Linked DNA regions of Homo sapiens: region 1 is linked to region 2. The links come from fine-mapping of genetic effects on gene expression. Tissue or cell type: whole blood. Region 2 holds a variant in brackets; the other region holds the start of a gene. All regions are shown on one strand. Distances are from middle to middle.

Evidence for each region. PIP is the estimated chance that this variant, and not a neighbour inherited with it, causes the effect.
Region 1: it holds the start of RIF1, and the variant in region 2 is fine-mapped to the expression of RIF1 in whole blood (TOPMed, PIP 0.95).

The regions. Positions count from the first base shown.
Region 1 is chr2:151,404,149-151,412,092 of GRCh38, reverse strand. It overlaps RIF1 (replication timing regulatory factor 1), which reads right to left and starts at 2,191. Exons shown (of 36, transcript NM_018151.5): 1 at 2,060-2,191; 2 at 1,566-1,679; 3 at 755-833. The coding sequence starts at 1,669. RefSeq lists enhancers at 2,119-2,278, 1,883-2,581, 2,582-3,280 and a silencer at 2,984-3,278.
Region 2 is chr2:151,266,481-151,277,812 of GRCh38, reverse strand. NMI (N-myc and STAT interactor) reads left to right here. Exons shown (of 8, transcript NM_004688.3): 5 at 1,949-2,055; 6 at 2,143-2,329; 7 at 6,081-6,187; 8 at 6,938-7,343. The coding sequence ends at 7,120. Among named protein-coding and RNA genes, the nearest start is that of RBM43, 10 kb to the right of the region's middle. The variant C/TC (reference allele first, on the strand shown) is at 4,811.

The DNA.
Region 1 (7,944 bases), 140 kb before region 2:
AACTGAGGGTGAATGAGGAAAAAGAAATTAATGCTACCTAGATTAGACCAAAGACAATTGTAATTTTAGAAGCACTTACTTAGATGTAGATTCCCAAAAGGAAAGAAAACAGATTAATCTCTGATCTCTGCTTTCAAGAGCACAAACTCAGATTCAAGTGCCCCTAGGCAACTTTAGGCAAATTAAATTAATTTCTTCACCTGCAAAGTGATCATTAAGAAATAATCTCATGGAACCATGGAGAGTTAAGTGATAAAGCGTGTAAGGTAATTAAGAAAGTACCTGAGAAGCTTTAAGTAACAATAAAGAGTATTATAATCAGTATTATTGCTGTTATTTTAGATTCAAAGCTTTTGAGTCAACTGGCAAAACTTTTAAAAACCACCAAAAGTGGCTGGACACAGTGGCTCACTCCTGTAATCCCAACACTTTGGGAGGCTGAGGCAGGCGGATCACCTGAGGTCGGGAGTTCGAGACCAGCCTGACCAACATGGAGAAACCCCTTCTCTACTAAAAATACAAAATTAGCCGGGGCGGTGGCGGATGCCTATAATCCCAGCTATTCAGGAGGCTGAGGCAAGAGAATCGCTTGAACCCGAGAGGCGGAGGTTTCAGTGAGCCGAGCCCGAGCCTGAGCCATTGCACTCTCGCCTGGGCAACAAGAGCAAAACTACACCTCAAAACAAAAAAACAAAACCAAAAAAAAAAACCAAACTACCAAAAGTGAAAAACTGTTTAACAAACAGATACATACCTTTAAAACTTTGTACAGCCGAGGAAGTTTTTTCTCAATTTCTGTAATTACTTCTTTTCCTTCTTCTCCAGTCATACGACTTAAAAAGCAGGAAGAACACAAGTTTAAGTAGTTGACAGGAAAAAAAAAAATACTCTCAAAAATACATGTACAATCTTTTTAAAAATTACTTTCTAACTCCTGCAAATGAATTGACCCAGTAGGTAAGGTCCTTAAGGGTATACAGAATATATAATGCAATATATATCAGAAATGAAAGTAGAAAAACCCTCAGAATAAGTTTTTACATCGAGTACATGCAAGTTGTGACAACCTGACTCCAAAAAGACAGAACAGGGATCCCTATTCCTAGTTACTAACGATTTGCTAAGCCTTTCCAAAGGGTTTTACAAAACTTTAGTACATTTCTATGAAAATTACTTTGAAGCATTTTGCAATTAATAAAAATCAGTGTATTGCTCTGTTAAAAAAACTCTGGGTAGCCACATTTTCCCAACACATCGGAGGTTTACACTGAAGACCCCTCCTCCAACAACTACTTCCAACCGAAACTTTTAAAAATCCCTCGCTTGCAAAACACACGTGCATGCTCCCTCGTTCCAAACACACACCTCAAGCGCAGCAGCAGCAGTACCCGGGAACGTCACCTAGAATACATCTCCCCCGCCCCCCAAGGCGTCCGCGACTCGGGCGTCCTCACATTTGCTAGACTTCTAGAACTCACATTCATTCTACGCGCCCCTCCCAACCACCTTCTTTCTCCCCACTATAGAGCGCCCCACTCTCCGCTACGCCCCGTGGCGGACCTCACCTGGTCAGAGTCAGGTAAGCGTCAGTCTGCCCTCCATGGGAGGCAGAAGGGTCTTCCAAAGTCTCCAACAGCGGCGCGAGGGGGCTCTGACCCCTGGCCGTCATGTCGGCCACCCTGAGGCCCGAACCGGAAGAGGAGAAAATCCAGTGACCGATGGAAACAGCCCCGCGGCGGCCCAGTGTGAGTCCGGCCCTCACACCCGCACGCCCGCCCGGGCCTCACAGCCACGCCGCGTCTGCACCCCAGGCCTCCGAATCACCAAACCCCAGCGCGAACCTCCTCCGGCGCCCGACACCAGACACCTGAGCCCACGCCACATTCGGGCCTGGGCCCGCTCCCGCCACCACTTTCCCGGGCAGCTTTCAACAGAGGGAGGAGATCGGCGGAGGGCGGGAGAAGCCCGGGGAACGAGGCATCTCGCCGCGAGGGGGCGGAGGGTGGGCAGACTGAGGGTTCCCCGCGGCCTACCACTGTCACCCCGATATTTATCCCACCTAGGAAGATCAGGACAGGGTTCTCTCCGCCTCTGCCCCTCAGCACCCAGACGCTGCCAGAGCTCGACTTTCCCAGCTCCGGCTGTTTACTCACGCGTGCGGCGCGCTCCCTCCTAGACCAAGATGGCGGCTGGGCGGGCCCAGGAGTGCGCGGGAGTAGGTTAGGCCTGGCGGGAGAAGTTCGAGCCAATCCAACAGTCAGCGGCACACCGGAGTTATCGATCGCCTCCCTTCCCATCCCTTCCCATCCCTTCCCTGCCCAGCTGCCGCGTCACGCCCCTCTGGTGAGCATCAGGTGGTGGTGTTTTGCCTAAGGCGAGAGACTTGAAATTCAAAATGTGAGTTAATTGCTCAGACTCACTAGACTGAACATAGTGGGCCCTCAGACTAAGTGTTCAAACTCCAAGTCCAGTGCTTGTTGAAGTTTTAGCAACAAATCAGTTAGCAAAAGGAGATAACGTACTGTTGGGTTTAAGACTAAGAGCTGGCCGGGCGCGGTGACTCACACCTTGTAATCCAAGCACTTTGGGAGGCCGAGTCTGAGGTCAGGAGTTCGAGACCAGCCTGGCCAACACATGGTGAAACCCCGTCTCTACTTAAAAAAAACAAAAATACAAAAATTAGTTGGGTGTGGTGGCGCACGCCTGTAGTCCCAGCCACTTGGGAAGCTGAGGCAGGAGAATCGCTTAAACCCGGGAAGCGGAGGTTGCAGTGGGCCGAGATCACGCCACTGCACTCCAGCCTGAGCGACAGAGTAAGAGTAAGACTCCGTCTCTCAAAAAAAAAAAAAAAGAAAGAAAGAAAAAGAAAAGAACTGTATCTCAAGCTGGTCTAGATTCCAGCTGGTCTAGGTTCCATGTGACTTTAGCAAGTTAATTAACCTATGCCTCAATTTCCTCCTCTATAAAATAGGGCTTTTAATAGGTGAAGTGAGAAAAGGTTGGAGAGGCCAATGGTTCTCAGGTCTTAAGCGTACATAACAATGGCCTGGGGATATTCGTTATTAAACTGCAGATTCCTGGGCCCCGCCCATATGCATTGTAATTCAGTAGATTTAGGTAGCTCCCGAGGATGTGCATTCTTCTGTTAGGCCCCTGGGGGGTTGAAGGGTGGGATTTGGCCAGGGCTTCTTCCCTAGAGAAACGTCAGTAAACACAATGACAGTCATTTCTCCTTACTGTGAATATGCTGCTCCTCCCCCGCCTTTTTTTTTTTTTAAGACGGAGCCTCGTTCTTTCGCCCAGGCTGGAGTGCAGTGGTGCGATCTCGGCTCACTGCAACCTCTGCCTCCCGGGTTCAAGCGAGTCTCTGACTCAGCCTCCCGAGCAGCTGGGATTACAGGCGCCCGCCACCACACCTGGCTAATTTTTGTACTTTTAGTAGAGACGGGGTTTCACCATCTTGGCCGTGCTGGTCTCGAACCCCTGACCTCGTGATCCACCCGCCTCGGACACCCAAAGTGCTGGGATTACAGGCGTGAGCCACCGCGCCCGGTCTGCTTCTCCCCTTTTCATATGCCTTCGTGCACTCTCCACAACAGACAGGATTGCATTAACTCTAAATCAGACACATGAAGCCCAGCAGCAATGGAACTCTCCATCATGGGTTCCTGGCCCAGGATTTGAGCCCTCACTCACATGTGCTGCAACTCTCAGCTCTAGAAGTGGGATGTTGCTTTTTGCTCTTCTTTGTGTCATCTGCACTTAGCAAAATGACTGCCAAACGACGCAGTACATACATAGTATGCTTATATATATATTTATTTATTTATATGTATTTATATATATTTATATTTATTTACATATATTTATATATATACACACACACACATACATATATACATATACATATATATATATATATATATATTTTTTTTTTTTTTTTTTTTTTTTTTTTTTTTGAGACGGAGTCTCGCTCTATCACCCAGGCTGGAGTGCACTGACCTGATCTCAGCTCACTGCATCCTCCGCCTCCTGGGTTCAAGCGATTCCCCTGCCTCAGCCTCCCGAGTAGCTGGGATTACAGGCATGCGCCACCACGCCCAGCTAATTTTTTGTATTTTAGTATAGACAGGTTTCACCATGTTGGCCAAGATGGTCTTGATCTCCTGACCTCGTGATCAGCCCGCCTCGGCCTCCCAAAGTGCTGGGATTACAGACTTGAGCCACCACGCCTGCCTCTACCCATTCATTAGAACATAAATTCTGTGAGAACAGGGATTTTGCTTTATTTTTTTCATAATTTCCCATTTGTAATGAAAGGACTACGGTGGTCATGTTGCTTGTATTTCTTTCATATGTATGGTTCTTTGATCTTCCAAAAATGTTATGTTTTAAATTTTATTATTTTTAAAGACAAGGCCTTGCTCTGTCACCTGGGTTGGAGTGCAGTGGTGTGATTGTGACTTACTGCAGCCCTGAACTTCTTGGGCTCAAATGATCCTCCTGCCTCAGCCTTATAAGTAGCTCAAAAATGTTATGTAAGATTTTATCATTGTCATTCCTGTGCCTAAAGTTCTCCAGCCATTCCCATCAGTAACAGGATGGATTTCAAAACTTTTGACATAACATGCAAGCCTATCATGATTGGGCCACTGCTTGTCCTTCATCTCCAGATTACTCCCACTTCATCAGATTCTGAACAGTCTGCTAAGATCTCCAGCTTCTCTGTGTCTTTGAAGACTTTTATTCAGAGCATGTATTTAGAATATTAATTACCTTCTTCAAGAGTAATAAATAAGAGTCAGGTGGCTCACACCTATAATCCCAACACTTTGCAAGGCTGAGGCAAGTGGATCACCTGAGGTCAGTTCAAGACCAGCCTGGCTAATATGGTGAAACCCCTTCTCTACTAAAAATACAAAAATTAGCCAGGCGTGGTGGTGCATGCCTGTAATCCCAGCTACTCAGGAGGCTGAGGCAGGAGAATCGCTTGAACCCAGGAGGCGGATTCAAGCCAAGATTGTGCCACTGCATCGCAGCCTGGGCAACAGAGCAAGACTCCATCTTAAAAAAAAAAAATCAACTAAAATCACACCTTTTTGTGAAATCTTTCCCTCATCTACTCTCCAACCACACACATTCTCTTCATGGAGAATTAAATGCTCCTGCCTCCCTCCTATCATGCTATAGATCTGATAAAATGAGTATCTCATTAATTTATTATTGTTTGGTTATAGGTGTTTGAGTGCAGTGGCAGAGTTGAGAGTTATCCTGATGGGGATTAATTCCATCTGTAATCTCATCTCATCAGTGCCCCTCCCTCCTATTTGACATTTTCTCAATCTGATCTAGAGTGCTAAGGGATTACAGAATGAAAACAAATACCCTTCCCCACCCAGACCCCTCTTCACACACCTTTACAACTTGGTTGCTACCCCAAAACTTCTCTTTTATAGAAATTCCATATAAATTTATATAGAAATATTTATAGCCACCCTCATGGATCTGCTACCTTTGGGCAATAAATTCATAGTACCTAGCACTCAATAAATATAATTTGAAATAATTTGTTCATATATTAATTCATCCATCTATCATCTAACTAATACACGATTTCTATCTTTCCCTCTCTAAATCCTATATCTCTTCTCCCCAGATCATCTTCCCTTTCTAGATGCCTTATATCTGCAATCCAATATTCCTTTCTAACTTCCTCATTTATGTTTTTTTGTTTTGTTTTGTTTTGTTTTGTTTTGAGACAGGGACTTGCTCTGTCACCCAGGCTGGAGTGCAGTGGTGCAAACATGGCTCAATGCAGCCTCTACCTCCTGGGCTCAGGTGATCCTCTCACCTCAGCCTCCTGAGTAGTTGGGACTACAAGAATGCACCACCATGCCTGGCTAATTTTTATTTTTTGTAGAGATGGAGTCTTGCTATGTTGCTCAGACTGGTCTCAAACTCCTGGGCTCAAGCAATTCTCCCACCTTAACCTCCCAAAGTGCTGAGATTATAGTCTTGAACCACCATGCCCAGCCACATTAAGCACACATTACTCAGCAAACGTCAAGCCTATAATCTATATCTATCAATGACTCCTTTCTCTTACTTGTCCCCAGTGGTCCTAATGATTCTCCCTTCTCAATAATTCTTAGATCTACCCACCAATGTGTATCTAAAATCTCAATTTATAGCCTAAATACACCTAAACATATTATTTCTTAAAAAAAAAAAACAAAAAAAGTTTTTATTGAGTGCCTGGTGCCATACATGCCTTATCTTTTTTTTTTTTCTTTTCGAGACAGAGTCTTGTTCTGTTGCCCAGACTGGAGTGCAGTGGCACAATCTCAGCTCACTGCAACCTCAAATGTTGCAGTGTTCAAGTGATTCTCATGCCTCAGCCACCCAAATAGCTGGGATTTCAGGTGTGTACCACCATGCCCAGCTAATGTTTGTATTTTTGTCAGAGACGGGATTTCACCATGTTGACCAGGCTCGTCTGGAATGCTTGACTTCAAGTGATCCACCTTCGTTGGCCTCCCAAACTGCTGGGATTACAGGAGAGAGCCAACACGCCCAGCCCATGCAAGCATTATCTCATTTATTTCTCACAATAATTCTAAGATGAATTACTTTCCTGGATTTACACATAGGCCATGTAAAGCTTAAAGAGTAAATTAAAACAGAGAACTTTAATCTAGCCATGTGTAACAACAAGTCTACTTGAACTACTTTCATTCATCAACATGTAATGAGCTCTACCCTGCACAAGGCACGGTGGTAAAATGGCTTTCATGATAGATTTATTACTGAATCTTGTAAGAAAAATAAAGTGTAAAGTCCTATGGGAGCCCATTATGTAAAGGGCTCATATAGTAATTCGTTTAGTAAAATCAAGTATTCATCTGTAATCCAAATTATTATAGTAAATGCAATGAGCTCAGCTTTGGATCAAAGAAATGAGTGTTTAAATACTTGCTGTGCCACTGTGTGACTTGAGATCCTCCAGAGAAATGCTTAAAGTTACCACATCTTCATCAATAAAATTAGAAGAATATACTTACATCAAAGTTCAGTGCCTAGCACAAATCTTGGCACATAATAGGTATTTAATAAGCATTTATTAAGTGATTGTATTAATTTAAAATTTCTTAATTCTTTTCTAAAATAGAATTAGTTTAATTCTTATCATTTAAAAATTGTGCGGAATTATATAAAAATCAACTCAAGGCTGGGCACAGTGGCTCACGCTTGTAATCCCAGCACTTTGGGAGGCCGAGGCGGGCGGATCACGAGGTCAGGAGATCGAGACCATCCTGGCCAACATGGTGAAACCCCGTCTCTACTAAAAATACAAAAATTAGCTGGGTATAGTGGCACATGCCTGTAATCCCAGCTACTTGGGAGGCTGAGGCACAAGAATTGCTTGAACCCGGGAGGTGGAGGTTGTAGTGATCTGAGATCACACCACTGCACTCCAGCCTGGTCGACAGAGCGAGACTCCGTCTCAAAAAAAAAAAAAAAAAATCAACTCAATATGGATTAAAGACTTAAACATAAGACCTGAAACTGTAAAACTACTAGAAAAAAAAAATGGAAAAACTTCTTGACATTGGTCTGGGTCTGGGCAATGATTTTTTGGATTTCACTCCAAAAGCCTAGACAACAAAAGCAAAAATAGACAAATGGGATTACATCAAACTATAAAGCTTCTGCTCAGCAAAGGAAACAGTCAGCAGAGTAAAGAGACAACCTATGGAATGGGAGAATGTATTGCAAACCACACATCTGGTAAGGGTCAATATCCAAAACATTTAAGAAACTCAACTCAATAGCAAGAAAACATAACGTGATTTTAAAATGGGCAAAGGACCTGAATAGACATTTATCAAAACACAACATACAAGTGTTCAACAGTTATATGAAAACATTTTCAACATTGATAAT
Region 2 (11,332 bases):
TTCTGACAGTCTATAACCCATGTTTCCTCAAAACTGGTGCACCACTGTAGCCTGAAAATAAATGTTGAAAGGCATTCCAGCAGGACAGTATCTGTGCGTAGAAGACATGCATCGCCAGTGTGTTTTCCTTCACCCTGGAGCTACTGCTACAGGTAGAAGAGGAGTCCAGGACTCATACTGGCGACTGGTAATCGGGATATAACTAAAAGATAGATATAAATGAGGATTTGGGAGGCAGGATTTCTGCACAGCAATTTCCTGGGAATGTTGGAAATGGAATTCTCTAAAAGCACCTACATCATTGCTTCTACGCTTGACGTGGCTCTGAGCTCCCAATCTCCTGGGACAGCAGTAGGTTTGAAACACAATTAAGTAGGAGTTGGCTCTTGATTGTCAGAGTCACAACAATTGAGACACAAGCGGTCCCTCTCAGCTGTATCAGATCACCAGATGTTGGGGGTTTGTGGAAGAGTGGGAGGGAAAGAGGATCATCTGAGTATTACTCATTGATATTTTCTGTTATTGTCTGTTGTCATTAGCAAAAAAACACAAAAACACAAAAAAACAAAAAACCATCATCCAAGTTATAGAGTCATATTTTGGTACAGTGAGTTGAATTCCCACATGGCCAAGGCCCTGCCTTCTGGCCCTTTTTTCTCTTCCTCCAGCTGTGGTGTGGTGCCATCTGGTCTGGTTGTCATAAACACATGTGAAGTTTTATAAGACAGAGAGTGAATGTCACTTATTTTCATGATACATTGGAATAGCAGCCCCAAATATCAACAACTGCAGTATTATAAACTCATGCCACACAATTAAAAATAAATGCCCACTCACATTTTTAATTGACATAGAGTTGCCTTTTGGAGTGCTAGTGATTTTTAGCATTTTACTAAACCTCTCCCATTTGCACAGGTAAATTAGACTTGACAGCTTTGTGATCAATATAGCAGGACTATCAACTTTTTAAAGAATGATTTCAAGAGCATTTTTGCAAAAGTGGAATTCGTCATTAAGTATGACCAAAAAAAAGACTCACTCTTTGATGTTCCAGCCTATGTAGTCTTTAACATGTAATCCTTGAGAAGACAGAGCAAATGAATATATATTGCTCTAGTGCTTGTAACATATTAAGGAGTAACAAATGATAAGGTTAAGTAAAATCAAGACTAATTGTACAAATGACACTTAGCCATGAAAGTTTTCCCAGCTTACTGAACATGGGACACTTTCTGGCTGTGCATTAATGTACTAGGGGAATCCTCTGGTAATTGTTAATAGTGGAAGGAAGGGTATGTGGCTGAGCTGAAGTAATATATGAATTCTGGAAGATTGTTAGGCTTATCTCTTAAGAGATAAGAGAAAAGATTCATCTTATGAGAAGAATCTAGAACTTGAGAACTTCTACATTGTGATTTTGCTGATATACTTTGACATTAATATATTCTACTTTGGGACCAAGAGCAGTGGCTCATCCTGATAATACCAGAACTTTGTCTGGGAGTCCGATGCAGGAGGATTGCTTGAGTCCAGGAGTTCCAGAGCAGCCTGGGTAACAAAGTGAGAGCTCGTCTCTACAAAAAGTTAAAAAAATTAGCTAGGCGTGGTGGCATGCACCTGTAATCATAGCTATTCTGGAAGCTGAGGTGGGAGGATCTCTTGAGCCCAGGAGTTTGAGGTTACAGTGAGCTATGATCACATCACTGCATTCCAGCTTCAGTGACAGAATGAGATCTGGTCCTCCTTCCCCCTGACCCCCCAAATTATATATTCTACTTTGGTAGCAAGACCATTATCACTTGGAATCACCGCCCGCCAAATTTTTAAAATTAGACCCTTTAATATTAAAGAAAATTAAAAATATTCAGGATAATTTGTTCTTAAACCAAAAGCATAACAATTCTTAAAATATTGGAAATTAATACTTCCTTCCTGAATTATTTTTCAGTTGCTCAAAATGTGGTAAGCATGAGTAAACATCATGTACAGATAAAAGATGTAAATCTGGAGGTTACGGCCAAGCCAGTTCCATTAAATTCAGGAGTCAGATTCCAGGTAACAGGATGATTAAAATTTTTTGGATTTCTGTTCATCACAAGCACTTCTCTCATCCATATTTCTGAACATCAAATCATTTTCCAGGTTTATGTAGAAGTTTCTAAAATGAAAATCAATGTTACTGAAATTCCTGACACATTGCGTGAAGATCAAATGAGAGACAAACTAGAGCTGAGCTTTTCAAAGTCCCGAAATGGAGGCGGAGAGGTGGACCGCGTGGACTATGACAGACAGTCCGGGAGTGCAGTCATCACGTTTGTGGAGATTGGAGGTACTCAAGGGTGTAGAAGGTTAACAGACACTCTGCCATTTCAGTCATGTTCTGTTGTTTCTGAAAGTATTCCTATTCTACTTCTTTTATTTGGAATGTATTAGCATGATAATTGGGGATTTTAAAAAACCTTATAAAATAGTAGAGTGTAGGAAATTATTTCCAGGGACAGTACTAGGAAAGATAATATTGCTACAAATAGGCAGGGTGCAGTGGCTCACCCCTGTAATCCCAGCACTTTGGGAGGCGGAGGCAGGCGGATCACTTGAGGTCAGGAGTTCAAGACCAGCCTGTCCAACATGGCGAAACCCCATCTCTACTAAAAATACAAAAATTAGCCAGGCATGGTGGCAAGTGCCTGTAATCCCAGCTACTTGGGAGGCTGAGGCAGGGAGAATCACTTGAACCCAGGAGGTGGAGGTTGCAGTGAGCTGAGATCACCAGGCATAGTGGTGCGTGCCTGTGGTCCCAGCTACTCAGGAGGCTGAGGTGGGAGGATTACTTGAGGCCAGGAGGTTGAGGCTGCAGTGACCTGTGATTGCACCACTGCACTACAGCCTGGGAGACAGAGTGAGACCCTGTCTCAAAAAACAAAATTAAAAAAAAAAATTGATGGATTAGATTTTTTCATGACAAAGTAATACATGCTTTTTTAAGGAAGGTGAAATAATACAGAAGAGCAAACATTTAGTAAAAATGAGACATTTCGGCCGGGCCCGGTGGCTCATGCCTGTAATCCCAGCACTTTGGGAGGCCGAGGCAGGCAGATCATGAGGTGAGGAGTTCGAGACCAGCCTGACTAACATGGTGAAACCCCGTCTCTACTAAAAATACAAAAAAATTAGCCAGGTGTGGTGGCGCATGCCTGTAATCCCAGCTACTCGGGGGGCTCAGGCAGGAGAATAGCTTGAACCCAGGAGGTGGAGGTTGCAGTGAGCCGAGACTACGCCACTGCACTCCAGCTTGGGCGACAGAGTGAGACTCCGTCTCAAAAAAAAACAAAAAGAGACATTTCCTCAAACTTCCCTTTCTCCTACTATTTAGTTAGTTATGGTTATTTGGGTGTCTTTCCAGGCTTTTCTCTGGGCACATTAAAACATGTCAATATCCTTTTTTTTTTTTTTTTTTTTTTTTTTTTTGTGAGACAGAGTCTTGCTCTGTCGCCCGGGCTGGAGTGCAGTGGCACTATCTCAGCTCACTGCAACCTCCGCTTCCCGGGTTCAAGCAATTCTCCCACCTCAGCCTCCCGAGTAGCTGGAATTACAAGTGCATGCCACCATGCCTGACTAATTTTTGTATTTTTGGTAGAGACGGGGTTTCACCATGTTGGTCAGGTTGGTCTCGAACTCCTGACTTCAAGTGATACGCCCGCCTTGGCTTCCCAAAGTGCTGGGATTACAAGCATGAGCCGCCGCTCCTGGCCCAATATGCATTTTTGACCTGAGCTTTTGGATGATGTTTAGGACATCCTGGTGGGATGTGTCAGGGAGAGCTATAAAAGGAAGGGGTCTTGAGGGCTACAGTAATATGTTGTCTTGGAAATGAACAATAACTTGGTGGAAACTTCCATAGTCAAGCATCCAGATTTTAATTTGCCAAATTCATATATTCATTTAGCCTGTTTGGTGTTAGTTTGTCTATATCTTGGATTTTAAAAAATCTGGCCAGGCGCAGTGGCTCATGCCTATAATCCCAGCACTTTGGGAGGCGGAGGCGGGTGGATCACTTGAGGCCAGGAGTTCAAGACCAGCCTGGCCAACATCGCGAGACCCCTTCTCCACCAAAAATACAAAAATTAGCGGATGTGCTGGCTCACGCCTATAGTCCCAACTACTTGGGAGGCTGAGGCAGGAGAATTGCTTGAACCTGGGGGGTGGAGGTTGCAGGGAGCTGAGATTGCATCACTGCACTCCAGCCTGGGTGACAGAGTGAGACTCGGTCTCAAAAAAACCGAAATAAAATAAATAAAATAAAATAAACTAGAATGCAATTTATAACTCTACTGTGAGAGATAATACTAGCTTTGGAACCTGTGTCCTTGGGCCATCTGGGGATGTTCTCCTAGAGGTTACATCTAGCCAGATGGGAAAAATACTTCTGCAGGTTATAGGTTATCCAGCAGGTAACTACTGAAGGATGTGAAGGTATTCTGGAGATAAATATGCCAGATACTTCATAAACTGTGTCTTACTGACTCATCACAATAATCTACAGGGTAGGTACTGTAATTATGCTTATTTTACAGAAAAAGAAACTGAGGCTTTAAGAAGTCAAGCAACATATCCAAGGCCACATAGCTCATAAGTAGCAGAGCTAGGACTGAAGCTGGTCTATTTGACTCAGGACCTGTACTCTTTTTTTTTTTTTTAACTGTGATAAAATATATATAACATAAAATTTACCATTTTAACAATTTTTAAATGTACAATTCAAGGGTACTAAGTACATTCACAATGTTGTACAACCATCACCACTATCCAT[C/TC]TCTAGAACTTTTTAATCACCCCAAACTGAAACTCTGTACCCATTTAACAATAATTCTCCATTACCTCTTCTTCCAGCCCCTGGTAACCATCATTCTACTTTCTGTCTCTATGAATTTGCCTATTCTAGGTACCTCATTCAAGTGGAATTATACAATATTTGTCCTTTTCCTGTCTGTCTTATTTTGGTTAGCATAATGTTATCAGGGTCCATCCATGTTGTGGTATGTATCAGAATTTCATCCTTTTTAAAGGCTGAATAATATTCTCTGTGTGTGTGTGTATTTTATATATCCATTTTGTTGATCTGTTCATCTGTTGGTGGATGCTTGGGTTGCTTCCACCTTTTGCCTATTGTGAAAAATACTGCTCTGAGCATTAACGAGCAAGTATCTGTCCGAGTCCCTGCTTTCAGTTGTTTCGGGTATATACCCAGAAGTTGAATTGCTGGATCATATCATGTTCTATTTTAATATTTTGGGGAACTGTCATACTGTTTTCTACAGTGGCTGTACCATTTTACATTTCTATCAGCATTGCCTCAGGGTTTCAATTTCTCCATATTCTCGCCAATGAGGGCCTACACTCTTAATCATTGTACCATATTGCTGATCCAAGGTAGATGAGTGAGAAGAGTCATAAAAAACATGGTTGTATATTCCCAAGAACTGTTTTTGTTAAATGTTACAGTCTTGACACACATCCTTTCACCACTCTAGGAGAAAAAAATACTGCTAAAAAATAGACTATTCTTTGTGTTGTAGAAAACTGATGAATTTTTATTTCCTTTCAGTTTTTCTAGATGACATTCAATCCCCTCCCTGCTTTGGTTAACATCATTACTTCAGTTTATTGAATATATTGAAAAAAATGTATATAGTATTCTAATCATAGTTTTCACTTACAGCTTTTGAGAAACTGGGAAACAGTCCAGTCTTGTTAGATGAGTGGGTTACTTTCTGCAAAAGACTATGGTATTTTTTATAGCTCAAAGTAGATCTGTCTGAGGACATTGCAACCCTTTGTGCATTGATTGACTGCAGTGAATAATTCAAGATGGAATGAAGGCTTTAAACCTCATTATTGTTTGGTCTTGTAGTTTTCAAAATTATGTACTGTGAAGTCTTCAAAGTGGGCTTTAGAATTTCTTAAAAATTAATCTTTTAACTCAATATTTACTGTAATAGTGTTCTCTTTGAAGGAAGTTTTAACTTTGGTTAAAAATGCTTATGATATAAAAAAGACAAGTATTGTTTTTGTTTTGCTTTTAGTGGCTGACAAGATTTTGAAAAAGAAAGAATACCCTCTTTATATAAATCAAACCTGCCATAGAGTTACTGTTTCTCCATACACAGAAATACACTTGAAAAAGTATCAGGTAAAGTCATCTCTGTTCTCTCATTTTCAGAACTCACTGCCCAAACCCACCCCACAAAAAATAAAGTTGTTGTGAGTCTGTTACTTATGCATCTTATCAATGAGGGATAGCAAAATGGTTTCTTTACTTCATTTTTGCTTGGTGCAAAATGAGTTTGTCTTTTGAAGGAGCATTTTAATGCAAAACTGTACTTTATTATACAATTTTTAAAACTGAAATTACTCAGATAATGGCACAATTTTTATTTTTGTACATGGAGACATAGTTGCATTTCTCTCATATGTCTACTGTCAGTGAGCATGAGAAAGAATTCCTGCCTACTTTCTCTGAACTCATTATCTTTACCCCAGACCTGCTCCCTTTTCCTCTTCCTTCTCAGGTATCCAATGGTACCACCATCTACCTACTCCACCAACTTAAAAGCTAGAACTCATACTTAACTCTTCAGTTTGCTTCACCTCCAACATTCATTTGGTCACTAAATCTTGCCAGCTCCACTTCTGACTACCTCTTTACCTGGTCTTTCTGTTCCCAGAGCATCCCTCCTTTCCTCTGTGTTCCATAATGCCACCAGAGTTCTCTTTCTAAAACTCAGATCTGACTTGGATATTCTCTTGCTTGGAAAATCTTCCTAAGATTTCTTGTCTCTTCTAAGATAAAATAAAAAATATTAAGCAGAGATTATGAATGTAAAGTTTTGTAATTCAAAGCTCTTAGAAATCTTTCTATTTATCATTTTTTCCTTCTTAGATATTTTCAGGAACATCTAAGAGGACAGTGCTTCTGACAGGAATGGAAGGCATTCAAATGGATGAAGAAATTGTGGAGGATTTAATTAACATTCACTTTCAACGGGCAAAGAATGGAGGTGGAGAAGTAGATGTGGTCAAGTGTTCTCTAGGTCAACCTCACATAGCATACTTTGAAGAATAGACTTAACAGAATCATGAAAACTATAGCTTTTTAACCCGGATTACTGTAAATGTTTGACAAAAATGAATATGCTTTTCCTTAAAAAATGAAAACTTTAATTTTTACCATCCATTTATGTTTAGATACAAAACTTATTTCCATGTTTCTGAATCTTCTTTGTTTCAAATGGTGCTGCATGTTTTCAACTACAATAAGTGCACTGTAATAAAAAGTTTTGTTTATAGATTATGTGTATTGGTGCCATGTCTGCTGAAATCAACCTTAAGTGATTCAGATGTCCCCTGCCAGTGCTGGCTCATCCTGTTATGGTCTTGTGGGCCAATTCAGTTGTGGCCCCATGCCCACCAATATGCAGACTTGACTCTTAACATTTTCCAAAACAAAGGCAGTTACATTCAGCAGTTGGTGATTCCTGTAAACTCAACTGAAGATTCGAAGGACTTCAAGAGCAACCATTTACCACTGTGCATAGCATTTCACTCCACAACTCTAAAGGTTCTCAGAGCTGAGTGTGATCTTTTTCTTGAATTTCTGTTCACCCAAGTGCCAAGTGTCCCTTGATTCCTTCCAAGCCATCCCCTCTCCAAATAGAGCTCGTAAAGGACTAGCTTTTTCTTTCTTTTGCACTTACAATGGAAACAATTGGTATAAGAGTTTGAAAACCTTGGCATGGAGAGAGAGGTAAATACAAAGTTAGTGACTCATCACTTATCATGCTCGATGCTGGGGAATGACTGGAGGTAAAAACACAGTACCTGCCCTCCAAGGGTTTAAGTTTAGTTGGAAAGAGACCCAGTTTACTAGCATCTCACTGTTTTTAACTTGCAGAAACTTTAATGATAAAATTAAAGATTCCTATTCAGAGAAGGTAAAAGTCTTTTTGGTAAAGAACCTTTAGGCCGGTTGCGGTGGCTCACGCCACCAGCACTTTGGGAGGCTGAGGTGGGCGGATCACTTGAGGTCAGGAGTTCGAAACCAGCCTGGCCAACATGGTGAAACCCTATCTCTACTAAAAATACAAAAATTAGCCGGGCATGGTGGTGGGCGCCTGTAATCCCAGCTACTTGGGAGGCTGAGGCAGAATTGCTTGAACCTGGGAGGCGGAGGTTGCAGTGAGCTGAGATCGTGCCATTGCACTCCAGCCTGGGTGTTGCAGTGAGACTCTGTCTCAAAAAAAAAAAAAAAAAAAGAAAAATAGAAAAAAAACCTTTGGACAACTTCTATTCTGACATGGTAGGTTTCATGAAGAACTGGCAGCAGAATTAAATTCATATTAAAATGCTGGCAGAATGAAAGGCTTTTAGAAAAGGTTCTAAACCTATTGAATGCTGCCTGGCATCTAAAACAAACAAAAGGAAAAGCTCGAGTTTTGCTTCTGATATTTTATTTTTAGTTTTTAAAGTTACATTACTCTCAGGAGTTCTCATTTTCACCTTTCTTTAAAGAATGAGAGATGGTGCCTAAAAACTACAGTTTATGATAAATCTTCATATTTACCATTTAAACAAATCTCTCGTGTCTATTATTCTTTTTAAAATAGAATGACTATTTAAAGCTCTCAAAAATATTAAGAAGAAAACTTTAAAGTAGCTTTTTAATTTCCATTTTGCCAGTCTCACTGGCACAGAAGGTATTGTTGATAGTCTGTGGCAGATTGCCTATCAGGAAGAATTTTATGTTAATATTTATTTAGGACAAAGTTGAAATAGTCACTTTTGTATTTTGGGGGGTCCTCTTCAGGCAGTAAAATTGATAATTCAATTCTAAATTTTCCTATGTGTTTTTTTATAAATATTTCTAGCTTAGAAAATTATACTTTTCTTTTGGATTCCTTTCACCCTCACCCAAGAGCAGTCTGGCTGGATGTCAGAAAACAAGTATTGGCTCTCCTGCTTATTCCTAGAGTTTTAGGGATCTTACAGAAGGACAGCTGTCTTTGAAAACTTATCAAAAGTACATATTGACTGTTTAATATATTGAATATTAAGAAAGGGGCCTTCATATGTATGTCCAAGATGAGCTAACTCCAGACATTGCCAATATGATAAGTCATATAGATACATATGTGGAATTACAAGTTCCTCTTGCTGTTTGTTGATTTATCAGGCAGCACAGGCTAGGTAATGCCACAGTAACAAACAACCTGCCAAACCTCATGGGCCTAAACAATTCTTACCCATGCTGATTATCCAGCACAGGTTGGCAGGGGGACTCTGTTTATCCTCATCACTTAGAGACTCCATTCTTGAGACAAGAATCATGGAGGGTGGAGGAGGGGGAGGAAATGTGAAATCTGGAAAGTCTTGTATCAGCAATTAAATGCTGTGACCCAGAAGTGATTCTTGTCATTTCTTCTCACATCTCATTGGTCAGAAATAGTCACATGGCCCTATTCAAATAGAAGGGACTTGGGCTGGGCATGGTGGCTCATCCATGTAATCCCAGCACTTTGGGAGGCCAAAATAGGAGGATCACTTGAGGCCAGGAGTTTGAGACCAGCCTGGCCAACACAGTGAGACCCCATCTCTATTTAAAATCTAAATACATGTATATATATAAATGCTTATATATCTCTATTTTAAATCCAAATATATATATGGGGACTAGGAAATTCTGTCTTATCAAAAGTTAGGAGAAACAGATATCGCTGAGCCAGAATAATAACCAGCATAGCCTACCTGTCTTACCACCAATATTTAGTTCATTTGTCTTCTCACACAAAATACACTCGTAGTCATCTCATCCTTAAGGGAGAAAAACAAGAAATTCTATCCAATCATGATATTAAACTCAAAGTGCATGAATTCAAAGTGCTCTACATCAGGTCTGAATGTTACTCCTCTTTATGCAGAGACCCTCACACATCCAATATAGAGTAGCGGAACTGGAATAAGATGAGTGCAATAAACTCTTACACTTGGAAAGGGAAAGAATGGGAGACACATAGCCGTCACTGGGCCAAAGCAATTCTGAAATCCCATTCAGTAGATGTGTGCTCCATACTCCCAGGGTGTGGAATTTGGATTAGGCCCTGATTCCATTCTCTAAGAATTCTCTTGCTCATTGTCCTTATGGCTCTTGAACATTCTTCTTCTTCTTTTTTTTTTTGACACGGATTCTCACTCTATCGCCCACACTGGAGTGCAGTGGTGCGATCTCAGCTCACTGCAACCTCCGCCTCCCAGTTGAACACTCTTCTTTTTCCATTATTCTTCTTGGCCATATCTAGAATGGGCATTTGAAATCTCTTGGAATCTGAAAAGCTTCCCTAGTGCACTTCCTATGGTCAATGTTTGTGACCAAAGTTATAAAGTTTTGAACAGTCATGGTCTCTTTAGTCTGGAGTGGTGGTTATTTAGCTGGTAAAATGGAAAAACTCAATAGGCATCTTGTCTATTTTATTCTGGTAAGCTTACACATCCACAGTTCTTTTCTAGACTTACTTTTTAGAGTTGCTACTGTTCTCTGCTTTCTTAGCCTCATGCTTCTTTCACTCTCCTCATTTAATTATAGATACTTTGGGTCTATCAGGCCACACTTTTGCTTTCATTTCCTTGAGCTATTTTGTCCAGTTGAAAGGGTTTATTGTATTCCACAACCTTAATTGGTGTTTTCGCTCTGAGGGATCCTAATCTATTTAGAGATTTACACCTTGATTTGATCCCCGCGATAAACCGGAGTTCTAATCAATCTTTGTTACTCAACAGGCTTCTTGGTTTTATTGTTTATTATTTGGGAATGAGAAATGTTTCTTCCAGCCCCATAAGTTGGAAGTTCATATTTCTGGACTTTCTCTATTCCCTTTCATTCCTGCTTTCAAACTGGCCAGTTCTTTTCTAAAGTCATTTCTTTCTTATATTATTTGTTAAATGCACTCAATGATAACAGAAAAATGCTAATAACTTTCTGCTTCCCATACTTAAAAAATAACAACCCCAAAACCACAAGCTAATTAGGTACATTATTTGCTTTCCAAGCTATCACATGACAGTTTTACAAAGTACTTTTATACTGCATAATGTGGGTCACCATCCTTCTAATCTCTGATAACTATTTTCTTCTTATCTGCCACTTGGCCTCTAAGCCAAAGTCATGTATTTCAAGTAGTGTTTGGATTGTGTGGTTTTTTTTTTGGCCATAGCAGTACTCCATTTCAGAATACCAATTTCTGTATCAATCAGAATAGGCTATGTGATGCTGATGTGAAAAATT